2 separate regions of the Homo sapiens genome follow, and region 2 is linked to region 1. Evidence: fine-mapped expression QTL. A gene starts in region 1. The other region holds a variant in brackets. All regions are shown on one strand. Distances are from middle to middle.

Region 1 (15,679 bases):
GTCTTCATCCATTAAGTACCATCAGCATTGTGAGGTGCCCTGAGCTAGGCTGGATACACCGTGGGGGCTGACATGATGCCAAAGGTGGCAGATCCTCACTATCCATGGATTCCATATTTGTGAATTACCCTAGTCACTAAAATTTATCTGTAACCCCAAAATCAATGCTCATGGTGCTTTCAAATTCATTTTCAAATTTGTGCAAATTGGCAAAAAATTTGAGTTGCCTGATGGCACATTCCCTGCTGAGGTTGAACGAGGGGACATCCTCTATCTTCCCATCTCAGCTCTCCTAATGGAAACACGTGTCCTTTTTGTGGTCTGTGCAGTGCCACATTTTTGGCACTTGTGTGCTTTGTGTTGGTGATTTTGCTGTTTGGAATGGCCCCCAATCACAGTGCTGAGGTGCAGTCTAGTTCTTGGGTGCAAGATGATTATGATGTGCAGAGAAAATCTCTTGTGTTAGAGAAGCTTCATTCAGACATGAGTCACAGTGTTGATGGCCAGGAGTTTAATGTTAATGAATCAATGATACATATTAAATAGGGTGTCTTTTTTGTTGTTGTTTTGAGACAGAGTCTCACTCTGTCGCCAGGCCAGAGTGCAGGGGCACGATCTCGGCTCACTGCAACCTCCACCTCCTGGGTTCAAGCAATTCTCCTGCCTTAGCCTCCTGAGTAGCTGGGATTACAGATGGACACCACCAAACCCAGCTAATTTTTGTATTTTTAGTAGAGATGGGGTTTCACCATGTTGGCCAGGATGGTCTCGATCTCTTGACCTCATTATCTGCCCACCTCGGCCTCCCAAAGTGCTAGGATTACAGGCATGAGCCACTGTGCCCAGCCAATTTTTGTATTTTTAGTAGACACAGGGTTTCACCATGTTGGCCAGTCTGGTCTCGAACTCCTGACCTCAGGTAATCCACCCGCCTCGGCCTCCCAAAGTGCTGGGATTATAGGCATGAGCCACCATGCCCGATCTCTTTTAACAGAAACATATATAAAATAAGATTACATATGGATTGGTTAAAGAAAATATTGTCCCCGCAGGCTCAAAGGAGCCTAACCCTGTGTTTTCCCTAGGAGCAGTGGTTCAGTGTTCACTAACTCAGTGTTTGAAGAGGGACTTTATAGAACATAACTATGTTAGCCAGCGTGGTGCACAAGTCTGTAGTCCCAGCTACTCAGGAGGCTGAGGCAGGAGGATCATTGGGCCCAGGAGTTTGAAGCTGCAGTGAGCAATGATTGCACCACTGCACTCCAGCCTGGGAGACAGAGAGAGACCCTGTCACAAAAAATAAAAAAAGAAGAACCTAACTATGGCCAACAATATGAATCAAATAACTATGCATACATGTATGCATAGTCAGGATATACTTTCCTCAGACAGAGCTATTCCACCCTACATTCATGTGCTCCTAAGGCTGCAGGTTGGCATGTCCACACCCAATAGGGAGTTTGAGCTGTCAGCTTCTGCTCCAAGGCTGGAATCAGCCTTGAGGTCTCTTGGGTCCTGCTGCTGCTCTGATAACACTCTGCCTTTTCCCTGGACCCATGACTCCCGCTGACGTCCCTGATCATGACCTCTGATCTTTCTGACTAGCCAGGTCTTAATAAGACCCCTTTCCACAATAGAGATAAGGGACTTCAGAGGCAATGGCACTCAAGGAAAAGCTTTATGAAGAATGGGGAACTTCAACAAGGAGAGTGTGAAACTGATTTTTCCATGCTCTCTCTCCAAGGTTGTCTTGGGTTTTTGATTTGTCTGTTACCGGAAACCTGCCTGTTGGTTAATCTCCTTTGTGTCCTCTAGCAAGGGCAGTTGTTAATATAAGTAATTTGGCCAGCCACAATGGCTCACACCTCAAGAGGACTGCTTGAACCTGGGAGTTCCAGACCAGTCTGGGCAACATAGCAAGACGTCGTCTCTACTAAAAATATCGTTCTATCATAAAGATACAGGCACACGTATGTTCATTGCAGCACTATTCACAATAGCAAAGACATGGAATCAACCTAAATGCCCCATCAATGGTAGACTGGAAAAGAAAATGTGGTATATATACACATAGTATAGAATACTATACAGTCATAAAAAAGAATGAGATCATGTCCTTTGCAGGAACATGGATGAAACTGGAGGCCATTATTCTTAGCAAACTAATGAAAGAACAGAAAACCAAACACCACAAGTTCTTACTTATAAGTGGGAGCTAAAGGTGAGAACACACGGACACATAGAGGGGGGTAACACACACTGGGACTTATTGGAGGGTGGAGGGTGGGAGGAGGGAGAGGATCAGGAAAAATAACTAATGGGTACTAGGTTTAGTACCTGAGTGATGAAATGATCTGTATAACAAGCCCTCATGACACAAGTCTACCGACACAACAAACCTGTGCTTGTACCCCTGAACTTAAAAGTTAACAGCTGGGCGTGGTGGCTCATGTCTGTAATACCAGCACTTTGGGAGGCCAAGGTGGGCGGATCACTGGAGGTCAGGAGTTCGAGACCAGCCTGGCCAACATGGCAAAACCCATCTCTACTAAAAATACAAAAATTAGCCCGGTGTGGTGGTGGGCGCCTGTAATCCCAGCTACCCAGGAGGCTGAGGCAGGAGAATCGCTTGAATCTGGGAGGCAGAGGTTGCAGTGAGCCAAGATCACATCATTGCACTGCAGCCTGGGCAACAAGAGCGAAATTCCATCTAAAAATAATAATAATTTTTAAAAAATACAATAAAAGTTTAAAAAAAAAAAAGAGTAAGCAAATGCCAGCCTGCCCCTCCTAACAGCACTCGTCGTGTCTTTGACCATAAATGTTTAGCAGAGGTTTGTCCTGGTGTTGCTAGGTTGGGCGTGAGGAGGTCAATGCTCCATACTCATTTCACAGGAAACAAGGACCCATGTACAGGGCTGTCACTTTTAAAAAAGAGCATTAAACCGGTAATCAGGGACTTGGGTTCCAGGCTAGAAGAGAGGTCTTGTGCAAATCACTTCTATTCTGCCAGCCTCTGCCTCTCATCCTCAACAGGGTGCAGGCCCTCCCAGCTCCAGTCTTCTGGGACCCTCCATCAAAGATACAGAGGATTTGAAAAAGGCATCACCAGGTTCCCCACTTTAATATCTGGACCAATTCTCTCCTTTCCCACCAGAAGACCTGTTCTGCAGGGCCATTGTGATGACCAGAGATTTTAGACTCTAAGTCCTACACACCTTTACAGTTGCTGTGGACTATCAAAACTACCCATTCTTCAAGCCCCCTTCAAGTCCCACTTCTTTCAGGAAGTCAACCCTGACTGCCTTACCCAGAAAGGGCATCTCCTCCTCTGAACTCTACCTTCAACAACTCTTATCACACATACCCTTTGTTCCCCATGGACTCATCTCCCTAACCACACTGTGAGTTAGTGTGTTAGGTACAATGTTACCTTTTTATTTTTATTTATTTTTTCTTTTCTCACTCTGCTGCCCAGGCTGGAGTGCAGTGGCACAATCATAACTCACTGCAGCCTGAAACTCCTAGGCTAAAGGGATCCTCCCATCTCAGCTACAGGCGCACACCACCACGCCCAGCTAGCAATGTTACTTACTATATTTAATTCACTTATCCATACAGTTTTCCAGAAGCCTTTTGTGATGACTTTATAAAGAATATATATAGAGAGATTTATACATAAACACACACACAGAAAAAGAGACAGTTCAGGAAAGCAGCAATAAATATGCTGATGTTGAGGGTAATATAGTTGCTAGACAGAATATCACATTGTGTGCTGAGCAGCCTGGAAGCCAAGGAGAAGAGGAGAAACATAATCAGTTGGAAAGACAGTGTGGTATAGAAAGAGCCACACATAGTGTGGCAAAGAAGCAGAACTGAGTGCAAATCCAGGGAAACTTGGGCAAGTTAGTTGACCTCTCTGTGTGTCTTAACTTCTTTCTCTGGGAAAAAGGGGAAGAATACAACCTACCCTGCACAGTGTGTCAGGGAGGCCCAAGCACACTGCATGGTGCATAGTATACAAACAAAACGTGTTTTCCTTCCCCACTTTCCTTTTCATTATCAAAGGAGAAAGCAACCTAGTTTCCTGCGGGAAGGCAAAGTTTGCCTGGCCCTAAATTCTAAAAGAAAATTTTAATATGGGTCACTGTAAGAAGCCTTTAGAAAGGGGAAAATGCCTCAGATTATGGTTTTAGAGTAAACCAGATGAGGATTTGCCATGGCTCTATTTGATAACATTCCAGGGTACCAGTAAAAGCTTAATAAACATCAACCAAATGACCTACAGAGAAGCTGTGCAAAGACCACTTAGCCGCATCTGTGTTTGGAGGCAGGGAGTCCTGTTAAGCAGCTTTCAGGGTGACTATCTGCAAAGGGATTGATCTCATCTAAGCGAAGTTGAGAACTGGCGTACAATGGCTCATTTTGGATTGACTCTGCGGTCATAAGCAGTGGCTCCTCCTGCCCATGGCCAAAGACACTGGAGCAATACCACTACGCTTACATTAAAGAGCACACGGCCCTGGCATTTTTTCCAAAAACAGCAAGGCAGTGATCTCAAAGTACCAGACGTTTCCTCTGCTAATCTCTACAGATAACTGCACATCCTCTATGACTGGTCTTCTCGAAGACCAAGTTGGAAAGACTTTAACTAGATGGGCTGGTTAGGAGAGCATCTATCTGCTTGGTGTTAAAACAGGCCTCTAGACACGGAGGAAGGCAACGGGTCCCCATAACAGAGAATGTATAAGCAATCAACTCTGGACAAGAAGGGCTCTCAGTGGTGATCTAGGCCAACCCTCTCACTATTTTCCTAAGTACCTTACTGTGCAGCAAAGCATTGGGGATGCAGAGAAACGTGATACAGCACTAACCGCCCAGGAGCTCACAGTCTAGTGGGGGGCACGTGTAAACAGATAAGGGCCATTCTGTGTGGCAAGCAAATCAGACTAGGGTGGTTCGAAAATCAGAAGAGGGACCAATTCCACCTGCGAAGGCCAAGACTGGGTCTCAACCAGTGAAGAGTTGAAGGCACCTGGGGAGAGGGAGGGCATGGGAGCACCATGCCTTTGAAAGCCTCTAGGTAGCCTGAGAGGACTGCAGCTTAGGGTATGAATGAAATGGTAGGAGAGGAGGCAGAAAAGGTAGACAGGACCCAGATCCCAGGGGGCCTTAGATACGCAGAGGAATTCTTTCAGATTCCATAAGGTGCAACCAAAACCAAGAGAAACCAAGTGACTTAGTTAAGCTCCTGTAGCAAGTTATGGGAAAAGCCAGGCCTGGAACCCCAGTCTCTCGACTCCCGCAGTCCACTTCTCTCCCCTGCTGCCTCCCACGCCTGAGCAGCTGGGGAAGACCAGGAGAGAGAATGGCCCATTCAACACTCACTACCCAGAGAATCTGGAGTCTTTGCCTGGCCATCTTCAGGGCAGAGGATGTACTGTCCTGTTCACTTGGCAAGCCACTCCTTACAAGAAAAACAGCCCTTCCTAACTCATTGTGTTTCTCTCTGCAGTGGGAGAGGGCTGGAAGTCCATTCCAACCACAGAATACAGTCCCTTCATGGAAGGAAAGTAATTTAACAGCAACAGTCCAGGAATCAGACAAGCTATGGTCCCAGAGGCAAGCGTTGGAGGGGCCTTCTGCTCCACGGAGACACTGACTCCACGCAGGGTACTGACCAGGGCAGGAGACCAGAGATGAATCAACTCCAGCCCGGGAGCTCACCGTCCAGCAGGGGAGATAAGGCAGATGGAAAAGTAACTATAAAATAAGGCAGACGGTGATAAGAGTTACACAGGAGATACAGATAGCAGGCAGTGGGAGTTCAGAGCAGAGAGGAGTCTGGGGGATGGATGTTAGGGGAGATTCAGATGAAGGGGAGCACTTACTGCCTTCCCTCCAGAAGTGGGGGGTCTATCCTAGCAGCTCTGGTCACTCCCAGGTGGAGGCCGGGGAGAGAGCTGGTTGTGGACAAAGACAGATGTTCCAGTGAGGTCTCCTTTGAAGAATCCCGACTCTGGGTGGGGGAGGCAGGTAGGCCGGGGTGTTTGGAGAGGCACCCAGCCCACACTTCAGTGGGAGGGAGAGGAGTGCAGGATGTCTCTGCAGGAGCAAGTCGGTGGAAAGGGGACAAGCCTGGAGGACTTGCCTTGAAATGACATTTGCACCGCGCGCACTATGTTCACCTGGAGTGGCCGTTTGGGATTTCTTGCGGGGAGGCAGTGCACACTGGGGCGGGGGACACTGAACTTTCCCTCTCCCCAAGGCCCCCCGATCAGCCCTGCCACGGATAAGAAAGGATTCGGGGTGGGAAGAAGACAGAGCCGGCACCCCATTACCACACGAAGGGGGCACTGAGGATGGAGACGGGCCACACCCCAACCCTGGGCCCCCGACAAGCAGAGGCCACGGCCCGGGCCTGGGGACGTTCAGCTGGAGGCGGGAAGCAGAGAAGGCGGGCCGGGGGCTCACCTCCGCTTCCTCCCGATAGCCCCTTCCTCGCCCTGGCACCGGCACTGCCCACGCCTGCCCCCCGACCGCTATGACACTTGTCCCTGGCGGGGGTCCCCCACGCGGTCGCGACCGACGGAAATTCGGAAATCAGCGTTTCGGGCACGGATCCAGGGCCGGCGACTCACTGAGGCCAGGCTCGGGCGGTCTCCCGAGCGGGGCTCCCGTACGCCACACCCTCCTCCCTGCCCGGGTCTCCGCTCCCTCCTCCAGCCCCCGGCGGGCTGGAGGCTCGGCGGGCGGGCGGGCCGGGGCCTCTCTGGGAGCCGCCGCCCAGATCCCCAGGTCCCCGGCCAGCGCCCGGCACTGCGGGACTCACCGCGGGCCTGCGGAGCGGCCGCCCGGACGCACTCACCCCGCTCGGCGCGGCCGCGGGCTCTGTCCTCTTCGGGGCCCCGGCTGGGCCGCCGCCACCTCACGCCGCCTCACGGGGAGCGCCCGCCCCGCGGCCCCGGCCCGGCCGGCTGCGCCCCGCGCGCCCCCGCCGCCTGCTGGCCCCGGGCGAGCGGCAGAGCCCCGGCGGGCATTGCTCCCGAGCGTCGCAGGCGGGCGGCGGCGGCGCACGTGCTGGCGGGCGGCTCTCGCTGAGGCGGCCGCGAGCTGAGAAGGAAGCGCCGGGCGGGCGGCCGGGGCCGGCTGGACAGCTCTACGCCGCGGCGCCGCGGTGCCCCGCGCACCCCAGCGGCCGCTGCTGCCCGCGCGCGCCGGGCCGGGCTCGCATTCCCTCAGTGGCGGCGGCGCCTCCTCAGGCCGCGCGGGGGAGCGGCGGCGGCGGCGGCGGGGGCGCGTCCCTGCGGAGTCTCGGCCCGGCCCCGCCGCCTCCGCCGGAAGAAACCTCTCCGACTCGGGCAGCCCGCCTGGTTCCTCAGACCTGCCGCGGCGACCCCGCTCCTCCCCGGCTCGCCCGTGTCCTCAGGGCCCGGGACTGGACTCGGGGGCGGCGGCGCGGATCCCCGCCCCGGGCTCCTCGCCCACCGTCCGCAGCAGCCGAGCGCACTCGGGGGCGGGAACCGGCCGACTTGCGGCCACTGTGACTCTTAAAACAGCCTCATTTTAAAAAATGAAGTTTCTTAGGAGCGAAATGGTAAACCAGGGAGGGCAGAGCGCAGCGGGCAGCTCACCGAAGCCCAGCCCCGGGCGCGGTGCTCGCCACACGGTGGGTCCGCGCTCTCCCCTCAGGACGCCCGGGCCGCGGCCCAGGGAACGGCAGAGCCGGGAGCGCAGCCGTCCCGGTCCCCACCTCAGGGAGTAGCTGGAAGAGGATCACGAACAGTTTAATCCGGATGATCTGGCACGACAGGGCTCTCCAATGGGAAGAGCCCCCGGTGGGGGAGCGCCTGGTGACATTCCTTAAAAACATGAGGTGTTTGTTAGGTTGAGCCAGGGTGGACTTGTTTGGCAAAATCTGAAGTCATGGAACTAAAGAGAGCACACCTAAAACTTAGTGATGTGTGACCCATCCCTACTTGTCACCTTATAAGGCTGAGGAGACGGCGGTGCTCCCCTGGAGGAGAGAGGACAAGCTAAAATTAAGGCGGCCTAGATGACTCCAGATGAAGCCGGGGAGGCCGAGCCCCTGACAGCTGCTCACCTCCTGGGGTCACGGCAGAACCCAACTGAACGGGCCAGGAAGGCCATCGTTCCCGACTCGCCTCCAGGTGCCCCTGACCATGACCACGCAGAGGAGGACCAAGGCGTACCACCATCACCTAGAACGCTTCAGCTCCTTCCCTCCACCAAGAGGTGCCCTAGGATCCATCCAGAAAGATCTGCGGAGCCCACAGAGTCCCAACGGGAACTGTGCTCCTGGATGGACGCCCCTTAACCCATAACTCAAGGACTTCTCTATGCCTGGGACTTAAAATCACCAACAACCCGCTCCTGCAGCCAGCTAGCAGAAATAAACACACAAAGGCCACACGCCAGTTCACAGCCACAAGTATTTATTGAGTGCCTGTAGTGCAAGAAAGAGAGATGGTCCCTGCTCCCGCGGAGCTTACAGCTTCACGACTCCAGCATCTGGCTAGATTCAGAAACAACTGCAGCAAGCACTTGTCTACCCACCAGCAGCACTGTAAAAAGCACATTTCTCACATTATCGGTCACTGTTACAGTGAAATTGTTAGATGTAAAAATTATCCTTGAAATCTGTAGTCATAGAGATGACATGGTACATAATGTCCAGCAAATGCACATTTATGGCTTGATTCCTCACATATCTGAGGGGTCTATGGAAATAAAGTACAAATCAGGCAGAAAAGACTTAGTAACACAGTTCCTAAGAATACTGGGGTAGTAGTTTATTATCAAACTACCATAGAGCTCTTGGCAGGGCAGGAAATTATTTCCAGCAAAATTTGTGCAATATAGTGGATTTAATCAAACCTGCAACTGTCAACCATACATGGTCCCTCATGACAGGTAAATATAATCTACCTGTCTGAATGGTAAAAGGCTACAGGTGTGCATTTATTTTTTAAAGCTTCTTAAAGACTCATAGCACAAGTGGCACATTGAAATCTAGTGAAAACTTGAGATAATCTAAAAATTAAAGTGACAAAAGTGTCTAATTTTACTACATATGTAGGTGCAGAGTTCAGATTTCAAGTAGCGTCCAGCAAAGCACGTGGCTTTTCTGGGCGAGAAGGGGATAGCTTTTGGTTGGCTATCACAGACTCCACCTACATCTCCTAACACCCACTGGCAGGCACTTCCTGTGCATGGTTCTGCCCACAAGCTGTCACCTTTAGATGAAACATTTGAAGGGGCAATTATTTGGAGGATACTGGCAATAATTTTTAGAAAAACAACCTATATTTATACCAAATAACCCCCAAGTCACCAATTAAGACCAAAGTGCTTTCTGAACTTACACGTGACAGGTTATCAAATTTGTTAAATTTTTGGTGGCTAAAAAACCAAACACACCAGAGGGATGCTTAATTTAAACTCCAAAAAAGCTCATTTTTTTGCAAAGCGTGAAGAGAACATCTTAGACCACCTAACAAATGTCAGTCCAAGGCAGTTTTTAGGTCAACTGCTTCGGACATAATCTACTTTTTTATTTCAGAAAGTATGCTACCTCAAGGCTGGGCGCAGTGGCTCACGCCTGTAATCCCAACACTATGGGAGGCCAAGGCAGGCAGATCATTTGGGGTCAGAAGTTCAAGACCAGGATGGCCAACATGGTGAGAACCCCGTCTCTACCGAAAATACAAAAATTAACCAGGCGTGGTATGCACCTGTAATCCCACCTACACGGGAGGCTGAGGCAGGAGAATAGCTTGAACCCAGGAGACAGGTTGCAGTGAGCCAGTATCACACCACTGCACTCCAGCCTGGGCAACAGAACTAGAGACTCCATCTCAAAAAAAAAAAAAAAAAAAAAAAAGGATGCTACCTCAAAAACCTACTTAACTCAATGAATCTGAAATATAATATTTCTTGAGCACTTACTAAGCACCAGGCACTTTACAAAATCTCCCTTAATGAAAGGAGTTTTCTTATTTCATCTTATAGCTGAGAAAGGCAGGCCTGTGCCAGGATGTGACCCAGGTCTCTCTGGCTCCAAGTCTCTCCTTTCTTGTCCCCTGAGCCCAGCTCTGCACAACCCTAGCACGGCCACTTTAGCTACATCTGTTGCTTCAGTTGGAAAAGTCCTTCAGTTGCAAAGACCATTTCCATACCTCAGGAGTAGCTCCTGCAAACAGAGGCTTAGCAAGGGAAAGGAAGGGGGCAGATCCAGGCATCAGGGGAGAGTTCACTTTCTATTTGCATTTTAAAAGGCACTTCCCAGAGGTGGCAGATTTGCTTAGGGTTTTTTTTTTTTTTTTCTTTTTAAACTATTAATACCTGCAGCAAAGCCCCAAGCCAACAACAAAAATAGTTTATACCCGGGGATAATAGCTGCTATTTAGAATTGCCATCTTTCCTGCTTTTAGGTGGAGTGTTTTTTCAGTTGAGTGTTCATAAGATAAGCATTACCGAAGAGAAAGACAGCAGAAAGAACTTTCCTTGGTATCCCTCTTCACAGCTATGAAGAAAAAAGAATACATTTTTTAGAAATAAGTGACTGATAGCTCCAATCTATTACACACTTCAAATATCAAAGCATATGCTGAGAGAGAGGCGCAGAAGATGTTTTGATGGAGGTTAACGCCTTTTTTGGAATAAGCCAATATAGGCTACTAAGAAGATAATTCCTTGGCAAGATAAAACTATCATCTCTTCTGAAATGGCATTTTTTAATTCTTAAGAATGTAGTAGATTTTACAATAAAAGTAGGGAACAAGGAAATATCCTAACAATTTTCAAGTTAGTTTTTAATGTCATATCCAGGAACACATTAAAGGTGGTCTTACTAGGTCTTGACACAAGCTGTACTGGAGCTTGATTAAAATGAACATTTTCTTTACCAAGACTAGATTTTTTTTTTCTAAAGGCTAGAAAACCAAGAATAAAGAATACCAAGAATAGGCCGGGTGTGGTGGCTCATGCCTGTAATCCCAGCACTTTGAGGGGCCAAGGCAGGCGGATCACATGAGTTCAGGAGTTTGAGACCAGCCTGGCCAATATGGTGAAACACCATCTCTACTAAAAAAAAAAAAAAGATATATACATACACACACACACATAGACATATACACACACACAAAATTAGCCGGGCGTGGTGGCAGATGCCTGTAATCCCAGCTACCCAGCAGGCTGAGGCAGGAGAATCGCTTGAACCCGGGAGGCAGAGGTTGCAGTGAGCTGAGATCATGCCATTGCACTCCAGCCTGGGCAACAAGGGCAAAACTCCATCTAAAAAAATAAATAAATAAAATAAAATAAAAATAAAAAACAAGAATAAAGGCACTTGATTCTAATTATAAGTAATTTTGATTAGCCTGAAGTCTTCAAAAGTTGCAGAGTAGGGAGCAAAGGTTCAACTGCACTGTCAGACAGGCCACCCTCCTTGCTGAGAAGGGAGCAGGGCTGTGGACCCCTGGCCTGGGGACCAGCCAGGTGAAGGGTGCTCAAAGGTCATTTGAGAGCCTGCTTGGAATAACTGGGATGGCTTGGTTCATTCTAACTACTTATTATTAAGAGCCACATAAAGAGGAAAAGCTCAAAAGCAAACCAAAATTTAAAACCTGAGCATGTTTAGTACGAATCCATTTTGAAAGTTTGGATGAGTCTGTTTATCAACATGTACCGAGCTGGAATATGTGGGGCACTGCGTTCTGATTGGCTACCAAAAACTAAGTAGTTACACAGCTCCAACTTAACCAGCAGTCCCAACACAAACCTGCCAATGCTCCTGGATCAGAGGAGAGACTCCTGCCCACGTGCTACTTCTGAGAGCCAGCGGCTACCACAGAGGCAGTGGGCTGGAGCCCTCTGCAAGGCCGAGGGGAAGGCACCAGGCTCCATCCGGACACACTCCCTGTCCATTAACAAATACAGTAGATTGTGATGATCTAAAGTCTAGTGTTCTTACAGCACCTACAGTGGAAATATTTTCCTTTTGGCCAGGGTGAAGGAGTGGAAAGGGGTGAACATATCCAGATGACAACTATGACGGACAGCTGAAGCCATGCACACTAAGAAAACCAGGCTGCCCTCTTAATCCCTCACGGGGTGGTGGCTTGTATTTCAAAGGGTTTATCTGTCCATTTATTGTCCAGGGTGGGACACAAGTTAATTCAGAACAATGGGCAGAGAGCTACTCTGAGAGCCCTCCAGAGAGGGCTCTCCAATTGTTTAACTTTTTTAGAAAAGATAAAATTAGAGAATTACAATCTCTCTTTTTTCTCTTACAGACAATAAAGTTTAAAGAAAATGAGTTATATTCATGTAGTTTTCAAAGCTTTCCAAGAGTCCATTATTACTATTCTGATATTCACTCTAAGACACGTTTCAAATACGAATTGCATTATCATTTTTTAAAAACCTCAACACAACTGAAATCCAAGGTACACTGTAATTGTTTATGTATTCAGCATGTACTAGTCTATCATTATGGAAGCTATTAAGCTTTATTTTTTAAAAACTGAATTGTATTTACAATGTAGAACAAGTCTATAAAATTGATGTGCAGTTAATTGTAAAAGGATAACACTATTTGTTTAGAAACAAGCTGCTTCCTCTGTTTATATTTCCTTATTCTTGATATAAATTGGAGACAGATACTATTTAAAAATAATGCTTTTTAAATAGTAAAATATACAAGAGATTCCTGAGCATAACAAAAATATCTTGAAAATATGTGGCCATTTGAAGTATAAAATAGCAAGTGTAAGAATAGCATGATTGTAAAACTACTGTTTGAAGGCTTATAAACAGTACAAAATAGTTTGCCTTTTCTGACTGCATAATTATACATTAGTGCAAACAAAAATGTCTCAAAATTTAATGGCTACAAATCTCAAAGATTTGCAGAGGTGCGCAAAACATGGAATTTCTTTAGCGTCATGCGAACTGAACCCAGTTCTCGATTAATCCTTTCCAAACGATCTTCCAAGGCTTCCTAGGTGAAAACAATGGGAAAAGTTTAATTAGAATTCTATACCAAGTTCTATAATCACCACCAAACTGACCTTTCTTTTAGCAAAAGAGCAAGTATAAACACTAAAATTACAATTATTTTGCTTTCTACACGAAACATCTTATGATTTCTTTTAAACTGGACAATATGAATTAGCTTTTCAACTATTCCAAATAACTGCTGTACTTTAAAATATTCTCAATATGTTTGACACATTGAGTATATGGAAATTCTAGTAATAGCAATACAACCAACTGGAAGAGGATAATTCTTTGGCTCTGCTGAAGTGAGAACAGTACAAGAGGAGCCTAGGAGGTGCTTCACACATTTCACCAGAAGAAATGGACACATTTGATCAGTGCTGCATCCCACACATACATAGATCAAATAACTTTCTTCTCACCAAAATTTCTAAGTTAAAAAGGAAAAAAAAAAAACACTGAAGGATACTTTTCTTAAAAAAAAAAATAGATTTCACAATGAATTAACAATTGCTATTTTAAAATAAACAATATTACTGTTAAATAATACCTGGACTATATATCATTATACATACTTCTGTGTTTTTGTTGAGACAGGGTCTTGCTCTGTCACCCAAAGCTGAACTGCAATGGCATGATCATAGCTTACTGCAGCCTCAAACTCCTGGACTCAAGCAATCCTTCCACCTTAGCCTCTCGAGTATCTGAAACTACAGGCAGGCACCACCACACCTGGCTGATTTTAAACATTTTTTTTTTTGCAGAGACAAGATCTCACTATGTCACCCAGGCTGGTCTCGAACTCCTGGCCTCAAGTGATCCACCCACCTCGGCCTCCCAAAGTGCTGGGATTATAGGCATAAGCCACTATACCCAGCCTCATTTTAGTTAATTTATTCAGTATTAATTCCAATGGTGTCCTGAAATAAAACTTAAAATTTTTTTCTTTAATTATAAAAGGATTATAGAACACTTAGAATATAGAAAATTTAGAAGACAAATAAGCAAAAAAGAAAAAAAAACTGTTCCTCTTTCCTGTTTTTTCTGCATACATATATATGCATACCACTTTTATTTTATTTTTTTTTTTTTGGTTGGGGGAGACGGAGTCTCGCTCTGTTGCCCAGACTGGAGTGCAGTGGCACAATCTCAGCTCACTGCAACCTCTGCCTCCCAGGTTCAAGCGATTCTCCTCCCTCAGCCTCAAAAGTAGCTGGGATTACAGGTGCCCACCACCATGCCCGGCTCATTTTCATATTTTTAGTAGAGACAGGGTTTCGCCATATTGGCCAAGCTGGTCTTGAACTCCTGACTGCAGGTGATCTGATCTGCCCACCTCAGCCTCCCAAAGTGCTGGGATTACAGGCGTGAACCACTGCACCCAGCCGTGTATCATTTTTAAAAGAAAAATAAGGCCAAGCATGATGGCTTACACCTGTAATCCCAGCACTTTGGGAGACCAAGGTGGGAGAATCACTTGTGGCCAGGAGTTCGAGACCACCCTGGGCAACACTGCAAGGCCCTGCCTCTACAAAAAAATTTTAAAAATTAGCCAGGTGTGGTGGTGCATGCCTGTAGTCCTAGCTTACTCAAGGGGCTGAGGCCTCAGAGGTCAAGACTACAGTGAGCTATGATTGTGCCAATGCACTCCAGCCTGAGTGACAGAATGAGACCCTGTCTCAAAAAAATTAAAAGAGAAACCTAAGAAGAGAATCAAACTCTATCTCAATTTTTTTTTTTTTGAGACACAGTCTCACTCTGTTGCCCTGACTGGAGTGCAGTGGTGCAATCTCAGCTCACTGCAACCTCCAACTCTTGGGTTCAAGTGAACCTCCTGCCTCAGCCTCCAAGTAGCTGAGATTGCAGGCACACCACCACAACCGGCTAATTTTTTTGTATTTTTAGTAGAGACAGGGTTTCACCACATCGGCCAGGCCGGCCTCAAACTCCTGACCTCAAGTGATCTGCCCACCTTGGCCTCCCAAAGTGCTGAGATTACAGGCATGAGCCACTGTTCTCGGCCTCAAAATATCTTTGAATTAGGCCGGGCCCATGTGCCTGTAATCCCAGCTACTCAGGAGGCTGAGGCAGGAGAATCAGTTGAACCAGGGAGTTGGAGGCTGCAGTGAGCCGAGATTGCGTCACTGCGCTCCAGCCTGGTGACACAGCGAGACTCCGTCTCCAAACTAGATAAATAAAAGATTAGCCAAGACAACCCCACACCTTTTAAAAAATGATCACATTGGCAGGTATTTTTTTTTATTATTCTTTTTCAGAGACGGAGTCTTGCTCTGTCACCCAGGCCGAGTGCAGTGGCACGATCTCAGCTCAATGCAACCTCCACCACCCAGGTTCAAGCGATTCTCATGCCTCAGCCTCCCGAGTAGCTAGGACTGCAGGCGTGCACTACCACGCCTGGCTAATTTTTTGTATTTTTAGTAGAGATGGGGTTTTGCCATGTTGGCCAGGCTGGTCTTGAACTCCTGACCTCGTGATCCGCCCACCTCGGCCTCCCAAAGTGCTGGGATTACAGGCATAAGCCATTGCGCCTGGCCATGGCAGGTTTTTTTTTGTTTTTTTTGTTGTTGTTGTTTTCCCAAACATACAGGTTTCAGGATGGGGAAGAGCTTATCTTCATACACGGCAGGTAGGA
Region 2 (15,679 bases), 29 kb before region 1:
CTGGAGGTAGGTAGGTTCTGAAATGTGGTCCTCCATTTCCCAGCTATGAGGCCTCACTCAAGCAAGCTGCTTAACCTCTCTGGGACTTGGTTTCCCTATCTAAAAAAGAAAGTGGATACTGGTACCTAATTCATAGAATGGCTGAAGAGTCGATGAGCTAAAGAAAGCAAGTGCTTAGCACCATGCCTGGCACACAGTAAGTGCTCAGTGTTTTGCTGCCGCTGTGATTACTACCGCTGCTTCACCTCACTGAGCTGATCTTCAGCTTCCTCCTCCGGAAAATGAAGGAAGGCACCTCCCAGGCACAGTTACGGTGTAGACCCGAGATCCCTGCATGAGGGCCAGGCGTGCTACAGCCTCTGAGCAGTGGGGACTCAGGGAAAGTCAGGTGGCTGAGATGTGTCTCCAGCTCCCTGCATGCTGCTCCAGGCCCTTCTGAGGCTGGGTCTCCATCCTCTCACCCGCCCACCTCCCTGTATTCTCCCAAGAACAGCTCTGAACCCTCCACCATTACCCACCCTCCCACAGGCCAAGAGGAGGAGCTGGCATCATGGACCCCATGCCTTGGGCAGGCTGGCTGGCTGGATTTCTTATTTTATGACCCTACTCCCCCTCCCTTCCATCTTCTTCAACAAACACTGTACTCTGGAGCTGAGCTTCTCTTTCAGAAGCCCAGATTATTGGAGGCAGCAGGGAAACCCTCAGAGACGTTCAAAGTGGAGAGACCTCCAGTGAAGGTGGAAGCATTTGCAGGGCCATTAAAAGACTGTTAGGAGCGATTTTTCTCTCTGCTGGCAAGTGGCAAAAGCAGAGCCCAAAGAACAAAACCCAGACCTGGGAAAGCAGAGCAGGGGAAGAGAAACTGAACAAGCCTTGCTGAACCATGCAGAAGTTGATGGAGGGAAAAAACCCAATACGCGCCCGCACACACACACGCACACACACACATGCACACACACACACATACACACACGCATAACAAAGAGGAGAAATTCTTAGCCTGCAGCAGTTGGTAGCATTATGTAAAATCCCAAGCCCACAAAAATATCATTTGGATGATAAAAAGTTAAATTTAGCTAAGTACAGAGTGACTAATACTATGAGGGAGAGGCAGCACCCCCAGTTGCCTGGAGCTGATACAGCTGGCTTTTAGAAACTTTTGACAAGTAACCAGGGCCTTGTGCAGCACAGAATAACAGATTATGTAATAGGAGGCACCACCATCAGCAATACAAAACACAGCACAAGCGTGCAGCCTTCTCCAAGGGAGGGAACAGTTGGGTTCTGGTTTGAGTGGCTCCAGTAGGACCTTGCTTGGGCCATGGGAACCTGGATATTCCAGAGGCATCCAGGAGCACAGCCAGGCTTTGGAAGGGTTTATGTGAATGGGTCTGCAAAGATCTTTTCCCAGGGTGGTTGCCGGGGACTGTTACTTTGGTGGCCTTCAATGAGCCATGCCCTCGTGGAGTCCCCTCCCTTTTAATCTAGCCTGGCCTTGTGGCCTGTTTTAGCCAACAGTATGGGATGGAAGTAACACTGTGCCAGGTTTGTATCTCTAAGCTTAGGGAGGCCTGGCTAAGAATTGAAAGCAGGATGCAAACAGGTATTTCTGCACCAATGTTCACAGCAGCAATCTTCACAATAGCCAAAAGGTGGGCACAACCCAGGCATCCACAAACAGATGAACAGATAAACAAAATGTAGTCTATCTACATGATGGAATGTTAGCCTTAAAAAAGACAGACATTCTGGCCAGGAGTGGTGGTTCACATGTGTAGTCCCAGTGCTTCAGGAGGCCAAGGTAAGAGGATCACTTGAGGCCAGGAGTCCAAGACCAGCCTGGGCAACATAGAGAAACCCCATCTCTACAAAAAATACAAAAATTAGCCAGGAGCAGTGGCACATTCCTGCGTCTCAGCTACTCAGGAGGCCGAAGCAGGAGAATTGCTTGAGCCCAGGAGGTTGAGGCTGCAGTAAGCCATGATTATGTCACTGCACTCTAGCCTGGTGACAGGGCAAGACCTTGTTTCAAAAAAAAAAAAAAAAAAAAGCAGGAGAGGAGTGAGGAGAATGAAGTGGTGGTGGCAGCCTGGATGCTTCTGCATTTGAACTCTAGGGAAGCTGAAGCCAGGTAAGAAGCCAACCACTTGTACCTTGCCCAACGGGTGATGAGGAGGGGAACGGATGTTCCAGCCAGCAGCCCTAGCAGATACAGCCAAGCACCAGTACCATCTCACCAGCCACAGGAGTGCAGCCAGCCACCTTGTCAATGGGTCCCCCACCCCAAGTAGTCAAGTTGTTCCAGCTGACACCAGTGGCACAGGGATGAGCTAACCTTACCACTGGGCCCTGCCCAAATTGCCACACTGTGAGCAAATAAATAAAATGGCATTTTGCATCACTATGTTTGGACGTACTCTGTTAAGCAGCAATAGGTAACTGATGGTGGCCAAGCTCTCTAGCGGGTTTGCAGGAAGTTCTACTTCCATCATAAGACTCATGAAGACCTTTTGTATCCTCACATATGAGAGTTGCTGAGAGACGTTAGTGCTTAAATGAGTCTTAGGAAGAGAGTAGTCTTCCACTCCCAATATCCCAATGGAGTGAATGCTGAAATGAAGCCGGTGCTGAGTTTCAAACAGCGGTCGTGAGGCTGGGGAATTTCTCCAGTGATCCTACGGAGTAAGCTGGCCATCAGATGATCAACTCAAGCTGTCACTTAATTACACGACTCTCTATCTGTGCAGAGCAGGGGTTTGCACACTGTGGACAGAGATATGGATGGGATTCCCTGAGTGCAGTGAAGTGATCATTGGCATGGGATTGAGACCAGAGTTCTGGCTGCTGACTCTGGGTAAGTCAGCTCGGCTCACTGGGCCTCTGTTTCCCCATCTGTAGAGTGAGGAGGCTGGGCTTCATGACCTCTGAAAGGGTTCTCAGTTCAGCTCCAACATTCTACAATCCTATGATTTGGACAGAAGGGAATACTGACCTGTAATCCAAAGCCCTGCATCAAGTCCAATGACTTGCATCTAGGTTTGCAAGGCAGACAGAAGTGCTCACTGGGCTCCTCAGACGTGTGCCCCTGGAGCCCTGCTCTGCTCTCTGTGCCCTTCATGGATTTGTTCATTCATTGTTCAATATCTCACTATGACAGACTCTGGCATGGTCCAATTTCCTCTCCCTAAATCATATGTTTAGCCCCCTGGACTCTAGGTGAGGCTACGGGACTAGTTATATGAGTAGGGGAGGTCCACCACTTCAAAGCCTGGCCCCCAGAATGCCCCATGCAATCTCCTATGCTCCCTCTTTCTCTGCTTACCAGCCAGCTGACTGCACAGATTCACTGGAGAACTCCAGGGGAGCCCCAAGGGATGGGAGAGCCACAGTGTGAAAGGATCCTGGGTCCCCAATTCACCACATGGAGGCCACTCACAGAGCATGCAATTCAACTAAGACAAGAGTGGGGATAAGCCTTTATTGTGATAAGCCACTGAGACTAGAGAATTGTCTAGCAGTTAGCATTACTTAACTAATACATTCACCAAATTGATACTAATTGTCAGATATGTAGGAGATACACAGGAGAATTAGGCTGAGGTCTAATCTTAGCCTTCTTAGAACTACCAGTCTAGGTGACAGTTCAGGGAGATTGGATACAGACCAGTTCTGTACTCTGCGATCATGATGGGAACCTGCTCAAGCTCTATCCATACTGCCTGCTTCCAAAAACCTTACAACATAGGCTCACCACATTTTCCCACCAAACATGAGATGAGCAAAGAAAGAAAGCAACCAAACAGGAGGGAGAAAATCTCTATCAAGGCTCTAAATTGAGAACAATCTAAAAGCAAATGAGTAAAATCTTAGCTGTGTGCTTCCTGGTAGGCAAAGCAAAGAGGGAAATATGCTGGGTCACAAAGCTCTTCCCAATAGTGGAAAACATTAGTTCATGATGAGAAACAGACATTGTGCTTGGGAAGAGTTCTGAGGGGAATGTCCACGGGGCCAGTGTGTGAGGGAATTTGTGCCTGGGAGGAGGAAGCAAGAGGAAACCAAGCTAGCCTGGAAAGCTGTCAGCCTCCAGGGTGTACGGACAGCTTTGCAGCCCCGCCTGCGGCCTGACTGGCTCTTAACGGAGAGCTCCTCAGAGTAATTCTTCATCCTCGTTAATGTCAACACGGCAGCACCATGATAATGATGGAAAATATTTACATACCATACCACTGATGGGTTGTTTAGACCATCTGGCTACTGGACATGGTAAGTATTGTCGAACACATGGCCCTTCCGCAAATACTGTGCCTTAGTGCTGATGGAGGCCAGGCTGCAGGGACGTGAAACAGTGTCACTCGGCTGTGTCCGTGTGGCCTGTGTCCACTGTCAGCTTTAGTCACCTGCAGGTCAGGGGCAGAGATCTCCAGCTCCCACTCCCAGATGTATCTGGGCTCAGCGTTGATGACAATAGCCTAACTATTCCCTTTACCAAGGGCCTCTTCAGGACTCAAGTGATCCAACAAGACTTAACGCAGCAAGACAGCTCTGATTCTGTGGCCACCTGGGGGATTTCTCCAATGATCTCCTGGGACTGCTGAGAATGCTCAGAGGAAAATTCAGCACAGTTCATTTGTGTTTGAAGCAGCTTCTGCCTAAGCTTTGTCATGCTCGGGAGGTAGGGACAAGGATTAGGTAGCACAACTAAAGGCTGTGCTCTATCTAGAAGCATAGAGGATGGTGATTTTTTTTTTTTTTTTTTTTGAGACAGAGTCTTGCTCTGTCACCCAGGCTGGAGTGCAGTGGAACCATCTTGGCTCACTGCAAGCTCCGCCTCCCAGCTTCACAACATTCTCCTGCCTCAGCCTCCCAAATAGCTGGGACTACAGGCACCCGCCACCACGCCTGGCTAATTTTTTGTATTTTTTAGTAGAGACAGGGTTTCACCGTGTTGGCCAGGATGGTCTTGATCTCCTGACCTCGTGATCCGCCCGCCTCGGCCTCCCAAAGTGCTGGGATTACAGGCGTGAGCCACCGCGCCTGGCTGAGGATGTGATCTTAATCACACCTAAATGAAAATTTCTTCGTTCCATCCATGTGGCTCCATGAGTACTAATATCAGGCTGAATACAGAGGCTTTTTTTCTGGGTCAATGCTAAATATTTCTTCTTTTTCTTTTCTTTCTTTTTTTTTTTTTGAGTTTGGGGTGTTGAGTGGCTTGTTTTATTATTATTTTCTTAATTTTAGTAAGCAAGAAAAAGTTCTGTTGGGAGCCCGTTCAAAAGTAGCAATTTTCTTAATGGGAAGCATACGCTTGCCACCCACGTGAGGAGGCTGTGTCAGCTCAGCAACCATACTGCCCTGTGAGTATGGTGAAGTCGTGTTACCTACTTGACAACCAGTGAGTCAAAGGGAAACTCATCACAGGTGCCTGTATGGCCTGCCGGGGTTTTGCTGCATAGCCGACAAGGGCTTTCTGAGGGCACACCTGCAGCAAAGGCCTGGCTTTGGTTTTGTCAAATATGAACCCGCAGATTTAAGGTCACCTTATAACTAACACCCTCTAAGATTTAAAATGCCCCAACCAGAGCATTCAGGACCTGAGTTCACGGACTGGGTTCAAGAGCCAGTTTTGACTCCAACTGGCTGTGAGCTTCGACGGCCCCTCACCTCCTGGAATCTGTGTTTTGGCTGTGAAAGGAGGGGTAAGACAACAGGTGTCTAAGCAGCATTCTGGTCTAATAGTCACAGGTTGGCTGGGAGGCACTGGCCCAGGGCAGCAGCCTCCTTGTCAAGAGTGCCATAGGAGTTCCTTGGTCTTCTATAGGACTAGTGCCTTTCTCTCTGCAAGTAGAGTGATGACCACAGACCTCTCATATGGAGAGTGGATCATGGAAGAGTCAGAGCCCTCAGCCAGATGTGGCATAAAGCTAATTCACTGTCAGTCACACCCTGGCCAGTGAGAGTGAGCTCACATCCACATCCTCTAAAGGCACTGAGATGTAGTGGCACATGTTTCCTGAGAGTAATTACAGTCTGGGATGATGACCTTTGCTGGTACAACACCTAGCACCTTAGGGCAGGATGGCTGTGCAGAGGCCACACAATACCTCTGCAAAGCTCCTCCCTGCTGGTCAGACACCACAGCCCCAGCAGGGACAACCTCTCTGAGCACCTACTCTGAGCCACCATGTCATTCTAAACAAACATCTGCTCTGCTCACCTGCTCTTTTTGCAAAAGTTATCTGAGCCCCTGGGGAAAATGGAAAAGCATAACGAAGACCACACCCAGATCACTGGGTGCTTCACTTGAACCAGCCTCCAAAACATCCGGCAGCAGGCCAGAGACACACTTCTTGTTTAAACACAGAGAAATGAGACAGCCCCAGGTCTCCCAAGTTAGAGAATAGAATCTTCTCAGAACACACAGCTGCTGCAGGCCCAGCCCAGGCTCCTTCTCTGGGGAGCTGACTCTGGCTCCAGCCCTCAGAGGCCTCTCTGCTGACTCCCAAACCCCAGTGAGCAGGTCAGCGCCAGGCCTGGCCAAGCTCTCACCGGTTCAAGGAGAAATGAGAACATGGCTAATGGGCCAAGCTGTTCAAAGAGCTCCAGTTTGGTGGGGTATGGTGGCACACACCTGCGATCCCAACACTTTACGAGGCCGAGATAGAAGGATCTCTTGAACTCAGGAGTTTGAGGCTGCAGTAGGACATGATCATGCCCTCCAGCCTGGGCAACAGAACAAGACCGTGTGTCAAAACAAACAAACAAAAATCAAAAAGCTCCACTTAGTTTCTTTATTCTTAGATCTTTCCTACTTCTTAGTGTTCCTTTTGTTCATGAGATGATAGCTACAGTGAATTATACCTTTTTTTGTGTTTGTGGTTAAATACGCATAACATAACAATTACCATAATAACTTTTTTATTTTTATTTTATTTTATTTGTTTTTTGAGACAGGGTCTCACTCTGTCATCCAGGCTGGAGTGCAGGGGCATGATTACAGCTCATTGCAACCTTGAATTCCTGGCTCAAACAAACCTCCTGCCTCAGCCTCCTGAGTAGGTGGGACTACAGGCACGCACCACTACATCTGACTTTAACATAATTTTTTTTTAGTAGAGGAAAGGTCTATGTTGTCCAGGGTGGTCTCTAACTCCTGGCCTCAAGCAATCCTCCCGCCTCTGCCTCTTGAGTCCCTGAGATTACAGGCTTGGACTACCATGCCCAGCCCATGTCAACCTTTTGTTTGTTTGTTTTTGAAACAGGGTTTCGCTCTGTCACCCAGGCTGGAGTACAGTGGCATGATCTTGGCTCACTGCAACGTCTGCCTCCCAGGCTCAAGTGATCCTCCCACCTCAGCCTCACAAGTATTATAGTTGGGACTACAGGCACACACCGCCATGCCCATCTAACACGTCAACCATTTTTAAGTGCACAATCATCACTGCCATCTACCTCCAGAACTTCTTCATCTTCCCAAACTGAACTCTGTACCTATCAAATACTAACTCTCCATTCCTCCTGCCCCCAGCTCCCTGGGGAATCTCTTTAGAAATGATGTCAATTGGCCTGGTGCGGTGGCTCATGCCTGTAATCCCAGCACTTTAGGAGGCTAAGGCAGGCAGATCGTCTGAGGTCGGGAGTTCGAGACCAGCCTGGCCAACATGGTGAAACCCCGTCCCTACTAAAATACAAAAATTAGCCGGGCGTGGTGACACACGCCTGTAGTCCCAGCTACTCAGGAGGCTGAGGCAGGAGAATCGCTTGAACCTGGGAGGCGGAGGTTGCAGTGAGCCAAGATCGTGTCATTGCACTCCAACCTGGGTGACAGAACAAGGCTCCGTCTCCAAAAAAAAGAAGAAAGAAAGAAATGACGTCAACTTACAGATCTGGGAAATCCAAGTCGCAAGCCTGTTGATAGGCCTCCTGGTCACATCTGAGCTCCCCCAAAAACATAACCTCCCTGAAGGTTAGCTTCTGGTGTTTCTCAGATACTCGGTGGTAAACAAGCTGACAGAGAAGGGGCAAGGTAGCTGCTGCCCCCACCCTTTACCAGGAACATATCTTCCAGACCACAACCTGACTACAGGAATCCAAAAACCCAAGAGCCCCTCAGTCGTGTGCAAGCTGGCAGCTAATGGGAATGAACAGTCTTAACTGGCTATGCCAGGAACTACCCTACAGCCTGCCCTTTGCGGTAGAAAAGGCTCTCACACAGAAGGAGTTTTCTCCAGATTTTTATTTTACTTAAAAGCTCTTCCTTGCCTGGGGTTTTGAGGTTGAAAACCACTGCCTCGCACTCACACATTGTAAGTGGGAGTGTAAATTGGTACTACCTTTATGGAGAGCAATTTAGCAATTGCTAACAAAAATAAAAGAAAAACACTCCTTGACCCAGCAATTCTACTTCTGGAAATTTATTCTACAGACATGAGAGTATATTTGCATGAAAACCTACTTATTGAGATGCCTGCTACAGCACTGTTTGCTTCCCATCTTCTGCTCTTACAATCTAAAACCCCATCAACAGGGACCTGGTTTAACACATGATGGTCCACCCATGAGCAGAATACTAAGCCCACCATTACAAGAACTGAACAACTCTACATGAGCCAACAGAGAACCATCTGCAGGATTTATGTATTGTGAAGTCAAAAAAGCAGATGCACAACAATAGGCAGCCATTTGTGTTTAGCTTTGTTTTTAAGTAATATAGGCCAGGCAAGGTTGATCACACCTATAATCCCAACACTCTAGGAGGCCGAGGTGAGAGGACTGCTTGAAGCCAGGAGTTTGAGACCAGCCTAGCCAACATAGCAAGACTCCATGTCTACAAAAATAAAAAAATTAGCCAGGTGCAGTTGCACGTGCCTCTAGTCCCAGCTACTCAAGAGGCTGAGGCAGGAGGACTGCTTGAGCCCAGGAGTTTGAGGCTGCAGTGAGCTATGATCACACCACTGCTCTCTAGCCTGGGTAACAGAGCAAACCCTCTCTCTCTCAAAAAAAACAAAAAAAAATTAAATTAAATTAAATTTTTAGGCCGGGAGCATTGGCTCATGCCTATAATCCCCACACTTTGGGAGGCTGAGACAGGTGGATCAATTGAGGCCAGGAGTTGGAGATCAGTCTAGCCAACATGACAAAACCCCGGCTCTACTAAAAAATACAAAAATTAGCCAGGTGTAGGGGGACATTCCTGTAATCGCAGCTACTTGGGAGGCTGAGGCACAAGAATCGCCTGAACCCAGGAGGCAGAGGTTGTAGTGAGTGGAGATCGCACCACCGCACTCTACCCTGGGCAACAGAGCAAGATTCTGCCTCAAAAAAAAAAAAAAATTAAAATTTAAAATTTAAAAAGTGGCCAGGCACAGTGGCTCACACCTGTAATCCCACCACTTTGGGAGGCCGACGCGGGCAGATCATGAGGTTAGGAGATCGAGACCACCCTGGCTAACACGGTGAAACCCTATCTCTACTAAAAATACAAAAAAATTAGCCTGGCGTGGTG[G/A]CAGATGCCTGTAACCCCAGCTACTCGGGAGGCTGAGGCAGGAGAATCGCTTGGACCCAGGAGGCGGAGGTTGCAGTGAGCCCGAGATTGTGCCACTGCAGTCCAGCCTGGGCGACAGAGTGAGACTCCGTCTCAAAAAATAAAATAAAAATACAAAATATTAGCCAGGCATGGTGGTGTGCACCTGTAATTCCAGCTACTTGGGAGACTGAGGCAGGAGAATCACTTGAACCCATGAGACGGAAGCTGCAGTGAGCCAAGATCACACCACTGCACTCCAACCTGGGCAACAGAGCGAGACTCCATCTCAAAAAAAAAAATTAAAAAGTAATATACATTAATATATACAGAGAATCTCTCTGAAAGAGGACACACACACAAAACTAGCAACCATCACTGTCTCTGGGAAGGAAAACTAAGATATTGAAGACAGGGGTGGCAAGAAGTCTTTTTTATTATTATTATTATACTTTAAGTTCTAGGGTATATGCACAACGTGCAGGTTTGTTACATATGTATACATGTGCCATGTTGGTGTGCTACACCCATTAACTCGTCATTTACATTAGGTATATCTCCTAATGCTATCCCTCCCCCATCCCCCAACCCGGCAAGAAGTCTTATGTTTGCCTGTAGCTGCTTTTCACTTCGGTACCAAGTATAATGCATTACTTACTTACCCAAATAATATTTAAAATATATATGATCTTTATATTTTATTACTGAACTGTAATCTATGAGTTTGTAAGTTCCATAAGGAATGTATCTAATTTATCTTTAGAATCTTGCTAATGTCTGGTGCACTATCATGCATAGCCTTTTCAATGTTTCGTTAAAAAAATTTTTTTTATTTTGAGACAGAGTCTCGCTCTGTAGTCCAGATGGAGTGCAGCGGTGACATCACAGCTCACTGCAGCCTTGATCTCTTGGGCTCCCTTGATCCTCCTGCCTCAGCCTCCCAAGTAGCTGGGACTACAGGCATGTGTCACCATGCCCAGCTAATTTTTGTATTTTTTTTGTAGAGATGAGGTCTTGCCATGTTGCCCAGGTTGGTCTCAAACTCCTGGGCTCAAGCAATCTGCCCACCTCAACCTCCCAAATGTTAAATGTTTTTTAGTAAGTGAAAGAATGAATGAGTAAATGATTCTAAAGCACTCAAAAAACAATGTTCTTTGAATCCTAGAAAATTGTGAGTCTTGAATTGTTAGAGAAGGAAGAAGTTAGGTAGAAGCAAAAACAAATAAATAATTGATATCTGGATACAAAAAGCAGACTCAGTCATATCAAAGGATGATGCACACCACTGATGGTTCATTTAAGTTGATGCTACAGATTTAACAAGAGTTTTTAAAATTTCAATTCTAATTATTTTATGTTTTAAAATGCCAATATTTAATATTTCTTTTGGAATAGCAGAACGCAAAGAAAATGCATGGTACAGGCCAGGCGCTGTGGCTCACGCCTGTAATCCCAGCACTTTGGGAGGCCGAGGGGGGCGGATCACGAGGTCAGGAGTTTGAGACCAGCCTGACCAACAAGGTGAAACCCCGTCTCTATTAAAAATACAAAAATTAGCTGGGCGTGGTGGCAGGCACCTGTAATCCCAGCTCTCAGGAGGCTGAGGCAGGAGAATCGCTTGAACCCCAGAGGCCGAGGTTGCAGTGAGCCGAGATTACTCCACTGTACTCCAGCCTGGGCGACAGAGCGAGACTCTGTCTCAAAAAAAAAAAAAAAAATTAGGGTTTTTTTTTTTTTTTTTTTTTTTGAGATGGAGTCTCGCACTGTCACCCAGGCTGGAGCGCAGTGGCGTGATCTCGGCTCACTGCAAGCTCCGCCTCTCAGGTTCACGCCATTCTCCTGTCTCAGCCTCCGGAGTAGCTGGGACTACAGGCACCCGCCACCACGCCCAGCTAATTTTTTGTATTTTTAGTAGAGACAGGGTTTCACTGTGTTAGCCAGGATGGTCTCAATCTTCTGACCTTGTGATCCGCCTGCCTCGGCCTCCCAAAGTGCTGGGATTACAGGCTTGAGCCACCATGCCCAGCCTAGGCTCTACCTTTTAATCCTGTGACCCTCATATCCCTAAAGAATCAGAAAGAAGATCTAAAAACCAAGCAGACCCTTCAGTGAGTTGAATATAACTGCTAAGGGTTCTGCAGGGATTGATGCATATCCTTGGGTAAGCTTGGGAATTCTTGCCCTATTAACCTCTCACTCTTGCCCTACTATTCTCCACAATCCAGTCTGGCAAGCAAGCTGACTACAACTCCCACCATTTAGAAGAGGGCCAACTTGCAGATCAGACCACCAAGCTTCAGGCGAAAAGCTGTCACAAAGCTGGAGGGCTTTAGTCCTAGGAGAACTGCACACTGACCCCTCTGGTGGTCATGCAAACCACTATGGTTAAAATAAGGCAGAAAATTAAAAGTAGCAAAACCACACTGAGTGAGTAAAGAAAAAGAACTAGGGAGGAGGGAGGATGACTTAGGAAGTATGGCCAGCATGATGGGTTCAGCCTGTGGGACAGCTGGCAGACACACATCCATCCACCCCTTCCGTGGCCTCCGAGAACAGCCTGATTCATGACATTGGAACTTCAGCTTCATCATGGTAGCCCCAGTCAGCTGAATGACTCAGCAATCCCTCAAAGACTGAATTATCTCTAGGGTTCTCTGTTGATTGAAAGAGAGGCAAGAATTGCCTTTGAGAAAGATCAGGATAATGACTGGGAAAATGTGATGAAGCTTGCATGAATGACAGCAGTGATGAAGCAGTGTCTGTTCTCTGGTTTCCAGCAGGAGCAAAAGATTTACTTCCAACAACCAGGCTCTGTTCACTGGGGTCTCGTCCAAACACTGCCCTCAGCATGGTGGTCTAGGGGATGCCAGGGCAAGGGACCACAAAGCTACAGGGAATTTCTGAGAGCCCTGCCCTTGGAGAATGCACGAATGGTTCATCCCTCCTCAAGTCACATCCATCATCCAGGATGAGTTGAGCTTGAAATAATGGACTTCCAGGCTCTGTGACAACGACTTAATGGTGCACAAATGTGTTCAAAACATTCTGGAAGAGTCCTCAGAATAACCCCACTGAGAGATGCTGAACACCCTGCATCACGCCACTTACACCGCTGCCCTCCATTTCCTGGGAGTCCAGGTCGCAGGGGACCCAGGAGGTGCTGGCAGCTGCCTGAACTGTCCGGGTGTTACTCTTGTTTCTAACCAGAAAATAAGGTCACTGGCGTGTTGATGCCCAAGCAAACAGGTGTTAGAGGTGCTCCTACCCATCAAATTCAACAATGGTTTCCACTGACGCATAGAAAAACAATGGTGTTTGCCTACTTATTTTGCAACAGGCTGCCATACTGTCTTATTCTAATTAATTTTGAGTTTGTCTACTTTGAAAACCTAAGACAACGGCTGTATCCACTCAAAACATTCATTTTGCAACCTCCTATCTGAGAGTTATGCCCTGCCTCTTTTTCTTTCTTTTTTTTTTTTTTTTTGAGACGGAGTCTCGCTCTGTCGCCCAGGCTGGAGTGCAGTGGCGTGATCTCGGCTCACGGCAACCTCTGCCTCCCGGGTTCACGCCATTCTCCTGCCTCAGCCTCCCAAGTAGCTGGGACTACAGGCGCCCGCCACCACGCCTGGCTAATTTTTTGTATTTTTAGTAGAGACGGGGTTTCACCGCGTTAGCCAGGATGGTATCAATCTCCTGACCTCGTGATCCGCCCGCCTTGGCCTCCCAAAGTGCTGGGATTACAGGCATGAGCCACCGCGCCCAGCCTGCCTCTTTTTCCTAGCCTGTTGCATTGGCTTGAATCTAGAATAAAGAACAGTACTAAAGAGAGAGAAGGCATGCTTGTCTTGCAACAGACATTAAAAGGAATGTGTCTTAGAGCAACAGTGCTTCCTAGATGTTATTTGGCCCTGGAATGCTTTTTTGATGCAATACCCAGGAGCATTCTGTGTTCCTCAAACATACTTTGGAAAATGCTACTAGAGCATTTGACTATTAAGGATAAAGTATCTGAGTGCGGTTGCTCATGCCTATAATCCTACCACTTTGGGAGGCCGAGGGGGATCACTTAAGCTCAGGCATTCAAGACCAGCCTAGTAAACATGGCGAAACCCCATCTCTACAAAAAAAAAAAAAAAAAAAAAAAAAAAAAAAAAAAAAAAAGCGGGCTCACACCTGTAGTCCCAGCTACTTAGGAGGCTGAGGTGGGAGAATCACTTGAGCACAGGAGGTGGAGGTTGCAGTGAGCTAAATCACGCCACTGCACTCCAGCCTGGGTGACAGAGCAAGACCCCGTCTCAAGTTAAAAAAAAAAAAAAAAAAAGGTGGGGGGGCAGGCGCAGTGGCTCATGCCTGTAATCTCAGCACTTTGGGAGGCTGAGGGGGGCAAATCACAAGGTCAGAAGATCGAGACCATCTTGGCTAACATGTTGAAACCCCGCCTCTACTAAAAATACAAAAAATTAGCTGGCCATAGTGGCACACGTCTGTAATCCCAGCTACTCGGGAGACTGAGGCAGGAGAATCATTTGAACCCAGAGACAGAGGTTGCAGTGAGCAAAGATCGCGCCACTGCACTCCAGCCTGGGCAATACAGTGAGACTCGATATCAAAAAAAAAAAAAAAAGATAAAGTAGCTACCGATGGGAGATATTCTTTATCATGTTGAAATATTTGCCTATCCCTCAGTCTCTACGTTTTTAAGATTAATGAGGCTGGGGCCAGTGGGCTCACGCCTGTAATCTCAGCACTTGGGAGGCCAAGAGGGCGTATCACCTGAGGTCAGGAGTTCAAGATTAGTCTGGCCAACATGGCGAAATCCCGTCTTTACTAAAAATACAAAAATTAGCCAGGTGTGGTGGTGGGCACCTGTAATTACAGCTACTCAGGAGGCTGAGGCAGAAGAATTGCTTGAACCCGGGAGGCAGAGATTGCAGTGAACCAAGATCACTGCCATTGCACTCCAGCCTGGGCAACAAAAGCGAAACTCAATCTCAAAAAAAGGAGTAATGAGGCTAGGCATGGTGGCGCACACTTGTAGTCCCAACTACTCGGCAGGCTGAGGCAGGGGAATCCCTTAAGCCCAGGAGTTCAAGGCCAGCCTGGGCAACATGGGAGTCCTGTCTCTAAAAAAATTAAATGGATAGGCCGGGCGTGGTGGCTCACGCCTGTAATCCCAGCACTTTGGGAGGCCGAGGCGGGCGGATCACGAGGTCAGGAGATCGAGACCATCCTGGCTAACACGGTGAAACCCCATCTCTACTAAAAATACAAAAAAAATTAGCTGGGCATGGTGGCGGGTGCCTGTAGTCTCAGCTACTCAGGAGGCTGAGGCAGAAGAATGGCGTGAACCCGGGAGGCGGAGCTTGCAGTGAGCCGAGATTGCGCCACTGCACTCCAGCCTGGGCAACAGAGAGACTCCGTCTCAAGAAAAAAAAAAAATTAAATGGATAGTGAACTTTATCAAATGCTTTTCTGGCATCAACTGAAAGCACAGTAGTTGTTTTATTTGTATATTTTTCTCTTTTTTCTTTTAGTAGATCTCCTAATATTTATGTTTCTGAGGCTGGCCCACAACCCAGCATAATGAGTCCTGTGCTGGGTACTTGTACTGGGGGAACACAGAGACACAGAAAAATGCATAGAGTTCTTGCCTACAGAGGAAACAGAGGGGAGAGGAACACGGGGAAAACAACACACACACATGAACATGCACACTCCTGCATACCATCTGAATGGCAGGCTAGTACTTGTGAATTTTGTTTTGCGTTTTTTTTTTTTTGAGATGAGGTCTTGCTCTGTTGCCCAAGCTGGAGTGCAGTGGTACGATCATAGCTCACTGCAGCCACAAACTCCTGGGCTCAAGTGATCCTCCCGCCTTGGCCTCCCAAGTGCTGGGACTACAGGTACACACCACCATACCCAGCTAATTTTTAAAATTTTCTGCAGAGATGGGGTCTCGATAAGTCGCCCAGGCCAGTAGTACTTGTGAATTAATGTGTCACACACAGGGCACAGTGAGGACCCCAGGGAACCACATATGAATCATGCTAATCCCAGAGGGCTTCCAGGAGATGGCACAGAGCATTTGGGGACAGGCTGGAAATGAGGGCCTATGGATTTCAGTCCTGCCTTGTGTGGGACGGAAGGGCACAC

Evidence for each region. PIP is the estimated chance that this variant, and not a neighbour inherited with it, causes the effect.
Region 2: its variant is fine-mapped to the expression of PITPNM2 in fibroblasts (GTEx, PIP above 0.99).

Annotation. Positions count from the first base shown.
Region 1 is chr12:123,143,882-123,159,560 of GRCh38, forward strand. It overlaps PITPNM2 (phosphatidylinositol transfer protein membrane associated 2), which reads right to left and starts at 7,209. Exons shown (of 26, transcript NM_020845.3): 1 at 6,872-7,209. MPHOSPH9 (M-phase phosphoprotein 9) reads right to left here. Exons shown (of 24, transcript NM_022782.4): 24 at 10,334-13,027. The coding sequence ends at 12,926. RefSeq lists silencers at 6,763-6,852, 6,953-7,092, 7,113-7,372, 7,393-7,592.
Region 2 is chr12:123,114,618-123,130,296 of GRCh38, forward strand. The region is part of intron 1 of PITPNM2 (phosphatidylinositol transfer protein membrane associated 2); the gene reads right to left. Among named protein-coding and RNA genes, the nearest start is that of PITPNM2, 29 kb to the right of the region's middle. RefSeq lists enhancers at 3,809-4,622, 4,623-5,436, 13,031-13,642. The variant G/A (reference allele first, on the strand shown) is at 9,506.